Regions from separate parts of the Homo sapiens genome. Here region 1 is linked to region 2. Evidence: fine-mapped expression QTL. A gene starts in region 2. The other region holds a variant in brackets. All regions are shown on one strand. Distances are between the middles of the regions. Region 1 has its middle 29 kb from the start of PTPN12. Region 2 holds the start of PTPN12 (protein tyrosine phosphatase non-receptor type 12).

Region 1 (2,903 bases), 29 kb before region 2:
CTGCTCGGGCAGCTCTTAGATGTCAGGTGCTGTTTTTCTCATTCATTTTTTGAGACAGCATCTCCCTCTGTCACCCAGGCTGGAGTGCAGTGGCACACTCACAGCTCACTGCAGCCTCGACCTCCTGGGCTCAAGTGATCCTCATACTTCAGCCTCCCTAGTAGCTGGGACTACAGGTGTGTGCCACTACACCCGGCTAATTTTTATATTTTTTGTAGAGACAAGGTTTCACTATGTTACCCAGGCTGGCCTTGAACTTCTGGGTTCAAGTGATCCAGTCACCTTGGCTTCCCAAAGTGCTGGGATAAGCATGGTGAGCCACTGTACCTGGCCATGCTTTTCTCTTTCTTATAGGTAAGCAAAGTATGGCAGTTCATGGAAACCGTCTTTATAAGAGAGCTGATGGGTCCTTTGCCCCCGATTATTCTTTTCTTCCTTCAGACAGACTGGAATATGGTTGTGATGGCTGGAGTAGCCCAGCTGAAACAAGAGGTGACCTTGGGAATGGAAGCTACAAGAGTACCAGGCCACCTCAGCTCTAGACTAAGCCATTGTTTTTTGTTTTTTTTTTTTTTTTTTTTTTTACTCACAGCTGAAGCTATTCCTGACTGATACAGGAATCTAGTGGTAAGTTCTTTTTTCAGTGGGTTTAAGGTTGGTTTCATATCTTTAAGCTGGACAGATTGTCAGATAAATGACTTAAGAGTCAGAACTAATTACCTTTGTACAAATGGAAGGACATCATGAATCTGTATCATTGTAAGTAAAATACTATGACTTGATGATGACTATTTGCTGAGATACTGTGACTTTTCTAATATATGATGATAATAACAGTAATGACACTTATATTCTCCACGGCTGTTGAGATTAACACTTTTGGCCATAGTACATTGATTTAGGTTTTAAAACATGACACTAGAAAGACTAAAATAATTAATTTAATTAATAAGTTTAAACATGAGAAAAAACAAACTAGTTAAATTTACTCAATTTGGTCAAAATGTCTGTTTTCAATATGCTATATCCCTTGATAGTTTTCTGTTACCTGAAGATATTTTCAAGTTGTCTTTTTATTTTTTTAATTACAGACATACATAGTTGTTTTATAGTCTGTGGATCTGTTTCTAATATCTGCTGTTTCCTTTGAATCTTGCTTACAGGGCCAGACTTCCTTATGTACCTCAATATCTTTGTGCATTGCTCATTGTAATTGAAAATTTGTTTTATTTTTATT[TG/T]GGGGGGGGGGCGGGGTTAGGCTCCATTCTACAAAACAGAATGAAAAGGCCAAGATGGGCGAATTACCTAAGGTCAGAAGTTTGAGACTAGCCTGGCCAACATGGTGAAACCCCGTCTCTACAAAAGATCGAAAACTCAGCCAGGCATGGTGGCAGGTGCCTGTAATCCCAGCTACTCGTGAGGCTGAGGCAGGAGAATCACTTGAACCCAGGAGGCAGAGGTTGCAGTGAGCAGAGATCACACCACTGCACTCCAGCCTGGGTGACAAGAGCAAGACTCCATCTCAAACAAAAAAACAAAATATCAACCCTGGCCAGGCACAGTGGCTCACGCCTGTAATCCCAGCACTTTGGGAGGCTGAGGCAGGCGGATCACGAGGTCAGGAGATCAAGACCATCCTGGCTAACATTGGTGAAACCCCGTCTCTACTAAAAATACAAAAAATTAGCCAGGCGTGGTGGCGGGCACCTGTAGTCCCAGCTACTCAGGAGGCTGAGGCAGGAGAATGGCGTGAGCCTGGGAGGCGGAGCTTGCAATGAGCTGAGATCACGCCACTGCACTCCAGCCTGGGCGACAGAGTGAGACTCCGTCTCAAAACAAAAACAAAAACAAAACAAAAAAACAACCCCATTAAAAAATGGTCGAGTTTCCATGGTGAGATGGTCAACAAGCCTGTAAGTTCCTCAGCTACGACTACCAGGTACCTCGGGTTCCTCCCTCCTCCGAGAGACCGCCGAGGTGCGGGCTGTGAGAGAGGGAGCGTGGAGCCTCCGAGGCCGAGGACTCGGTCCCAGTTTGGACAGATAGAAGATCCTGCCGAGTGCCTGTGATTGCAGGCACGCGCCGCCACGCCTGACTGGTTTTGGTGGAGACGGGGTTTCGCTGTGTTGGCCGGGCCGGTCTCCAGCCCCTAACCGCGAGTGATCCGCCCGCCTTGGCCTCCCGAGGTGCCGGGATTGCAGAGGGAGTCTCGTTCACTCAGTGCTCAATGGTGCCCAGGCTGGAGTGCAGTGGCGTGGTCTCGGCTCACTACAACCTACACCTCCCAGCCGCCTGCCTTGGCCTCCCAGAGTGCCGAGATTGCAGCCTCTGCCCGGCCGCCACCCCGTCTGGGAAGTGAGGAGTGTCTCTGCCTGGCCGCCCATCGTCTGGGATGTGAGGAGCCCCTCTGCCTGGCTGCCCAGTCTGGAAAGTGAGGAGCGTCTCCGCCCGGCCGCCATCCCATCTAGGAAGTGAGGAGCGCCTCTTCCCAGCCGCCATCACATCTAGGAAGTGAGGAGCGTCTCTGCCCGGCCGCCCATCGTCTGAGATGTGGGGAGCGCCTCTGCCCCGCCGCCCCATCTGGGATGTGAGGAGCGCCTCTGCCCGGCCGAGACCCCGTCTGGGAGGTGAGGAGCGTCTCTGCCCGGCCGCCCCGTCTGAGAAGTGAGGAGACCCTCTGCCTGGCAACCACCCCGTCTGAAAAGTGAGGAGCCCCTCTGCCCGGCAGCCGCCCCGTCTGGGAGGTGAGGAGCCTCTCCGCCCGGCAGCCACCCTGTCCGGGAGGGAGGTGGGGGGGGTCAGCCCCCCGCCCGGCCAGCTGCCCCATCCGGGAGGGAGGTGGGGGGTCAGCCCCCGCCCGGCCAGCCGTGCCATCCGGGAGGGAGGTGGGGGGGTCAGCCCCC
Region 2 (2,903 bases):
TGTGGGTATAAATGACGAAAGTCAGTTCATGGATCAAATCCTTCAGTTCTGTCACATTGTGAGAGGCCACTGTTGTGAAAGTAAAATAACTTCTAGTTACGGCTCTGCTAAGAATACGCTGGGGGATGTCAGGAAGTCGCTTTATTTGTAAAATGATGAGTTAGACCAGAATATATTCTCTGATAGAAGTTTACAAAGATGAATAAAGATTTATAGGCTAGGCGCGGTGGCTCACGCCTAAAATCCCAACACTTTCGGAAGCTGAGGATCCCTAGTGCACAGGAATTCGAGATCAGCCTGGGCAACCTGGTGAGACCCCCTTCTCTACCAAAAATAAATAAATAAATAAATAATAAATTTTTAAAATGTATTAGCTGGGCTTGGTGACGTAGTGAGGCAGGAGGATGCCTTGAGCCCAGGAGTTCAAGGCTGCAGCGAGCCGTGATCATAGCACTGCACTTTGGCATGGGAGATAGAGCAAGACCTTAGCTCTAAAAAAAAAAAAAAAAAAAAATTAATAGATTTATAAAGTCCATTCTATGGAGGAAAGTCTCTTATTCAGTTATGAACTGCTGCGAACCTAAAGGCAGGAAGGCAAATTCCCTTCAGTTCGGCAAACACGAAGACCCCACATTCGCGTCGTCTGTGAAGAAGGCACTCCGAACCTCAGGCGCTCACTCGCCAGGTTTAAGAGGATGAGCAAAGAATAAAAGTCCTCTCACCCAGGAAGCGTTTCGCTTCCCTTAGCTGGAGCCACGCTCCAAGGTGCCAAAGCCTAATTGCTGTCCACTCTCACCAATCCGTTAGCAAGATGAGCATCTACCTGCTGCGAACGTGGCGGTGACACTACTACAGCTCCCAGCCTGCCTCCCGCCCGCCCCCACTCCTGGACTCCACAGACCGTGACTTGTAGTCCCAGCCCACGGCTGGCGGCGGTGCGGGACTCCTGAAAACTGCTTTTCCTCCCTAGTAGGCGGTGAGACCGCAAATTCCATCAGAATCCTACTCTGACCCACTAGGGCTTGGCCCGCTCAGAGTCGCATTCCCTCCTCCAAATGAACCAACTCTCCTCCCAGCGATACTCCGACCTCTGAGCACCCCGGGCGGGGCCACGCCCCGGAAATGGAGTCAGGTCTCCAGGCCGCCCGCTGAAGTGCCTTCCAGCCACTCCAAGCGGGGCTGGGGCCGGCGGGGCGGGCTTGGGGGCGTGGCCGGGAGGCGGGCGGGGATGCATCTGCGGGCGCAGCGCTTGGGGCGGAGCCGCAGCGCGAGGCCGCGCATCTGGGTGGCGGCGGGGACGCGCCCGTGGGGAGAGGCGGCTGCGGCTGCGGCTGCGGCTGCTGGCGGGGGGTGGGGGGGAGGAGGAACCGGGAAGGGGGGGCAGGGCGAGCGGAGAGCTAGCTGTGTTCCTGAGGCGGCGGCGGCGGCGGCGGCGGCGGCGGCGTCTCCGACGGAGGAGGAGGGCGGGGAAGGAGGATGGAGCAAGCTGGGGGTTGGGGTTGGCGCTAGCGCAGCGGCTCGCCTGGTACTGTGGGAGAGCGGCGGCTGCTCCTGGAAGTTGTGGTGTCGGGAGCCCAGCCGGTGCCGCCGCAGCCGCCGCCTAGGGCGGTGGGGAGGAGGAGGGAGCCGCGGGGCTTGGCGGGGTCGGGAGGGAGGGACGTGCTGGGGGAACGAGCTGGGGAAGACGGAGCGGGCTCTGTGCCGGGCGGGCGGGCGGCGGGGGGGCCAGCGACCGCAGCCGGGGGGACGCGGGAGGATGGAGCAAGTGGAGATCCTGAGGAAATTCATCCAGAGGGTCCAGGCCATGAAGAGTCCTGACCACAATGGGGAGGACAACTTCGCCCGGGACTTCATGGTGAGTCTCTCCCCTCGCTGTCGCGTTTTCTTGCCGGCGCCGGAGCCCATCGCCGCCTCTCCCGGCCGGGCCGCCAGTGCTTTGTGTACCTCTGTGAGGAGAGGGGCGGAGGGGGCGCGCACCAGCCGGGTGAGCCGGGTGGTCTCGGAGGCCAGCGGGAGGCGAGAGCGCCTCCCCCCGTGGCCTCCTTTCTTCTCCCATGTTCGCGACCCCCGCGCGGGTTCCCGGGACGCGAAGGGAGCGGCCGCGCGGCCGAGCCCGCAGCCTGCACCGTGGCTCGCGACCACCTATTGTTTACCGGGCCGGGAGCCGTAGGCAAGTGAGGTGCAGGCCGGGGGGGGGGGCTCGCGTTTCCACACCTCCCCGCGCAGTTCGCTCCTCCCAGGAGGGTCGAGGCAAGGTATCTGGCTGTGACCGGGAGGAGTGCAGATCGTGGCTGACAGAGGAACGGGGGTATTGAGGTTGGCACTAACTCCTGGGATCCCTTTGCTCTAGCTGGTCTCAAAGCGGGCAGGGTAGGACTTAGGCCGTTTCTGGGGTCGCAGTCATGATCTCCAACGCTTGGGAAAGGATTGCCCATAAGGAATCTCATGGGTTTACCTAATTTCCATTTACCCGCGTCCCGCTTCTCCTCTCCTGAGGCCCAGGTTTGAGGTGGTCTTGGGGTCCGTGTGACTATAGGTTCAGGGGATAAGTGTGGGTGGGGGAATTATCCTGAAGGAAGCCAGCCGACTTCGGACTCCCCAGGGGATATTGCCGAAGGCGGAGGGGATGTGACTATCACTTCCTATCCGGGGTGGGGGTGGGGAACTTGGGAACAATAGTCCTGGTGGGGCGGAGGCGACGCTACGGGCCGAAGCCCTGAACTGGGAGATAACCTTCCCAGCGCCCCCCCGCCTCCGCCACCCCCTACTTTCCGCCCTCTGCTTGTGCAGGCAGTCTTGAGAGGAGGTGAAGGTTAAAAGTCTTGTTCATGAAATTGCTCTAGATACACTATTGCTTTAGCACACTGTGAGGGGGTCAGATCCGAAGGCGTGAGACCAGAAGT

Evidence for each region.
Region 1: its variant is fine-mapped to the expression of PTPN12 in subcutaneous fat (TwinsUK, PIP 0.95).

The regions. Positions count from the first base shown.
Region 1 is chr7:77,506,491-77,509,393 of GRCh38, forward strand. No RefSeq gene overlaps it. Among named protein-coding and RNA genes, the nearest start is that of PTPN12, 29 kb to the right of the region's middle. RefSeq lists an enhancer at 2,196-2,903. The variant TG/T (reference allele first, on the strand shown) is at 1,238.
Region 2 is chr7:77,535,791-77,538,693 of GRCh38, forward strand. PTPN12 (protein tyrosine phosphatase non-receptor type 12) reads left to right here and starts at 1,505. Exons shown (of 18, transcript NM_002835.4): 1 at 1,505-1,855. The coding sequence starts at 1,757. It overlaps LOC124901681 (a long non-coding RNA gene), which reads right to left and starts at 1,159. Exons shown (of 3, transcript XR_007060395.1): 1 at 581-1,159; 2 at 1-491. RefSeq lists enhancers at 585-634, 805-1,024 and silencers at 1,095-1,394, 1,645-1,854, 1,995-2,044.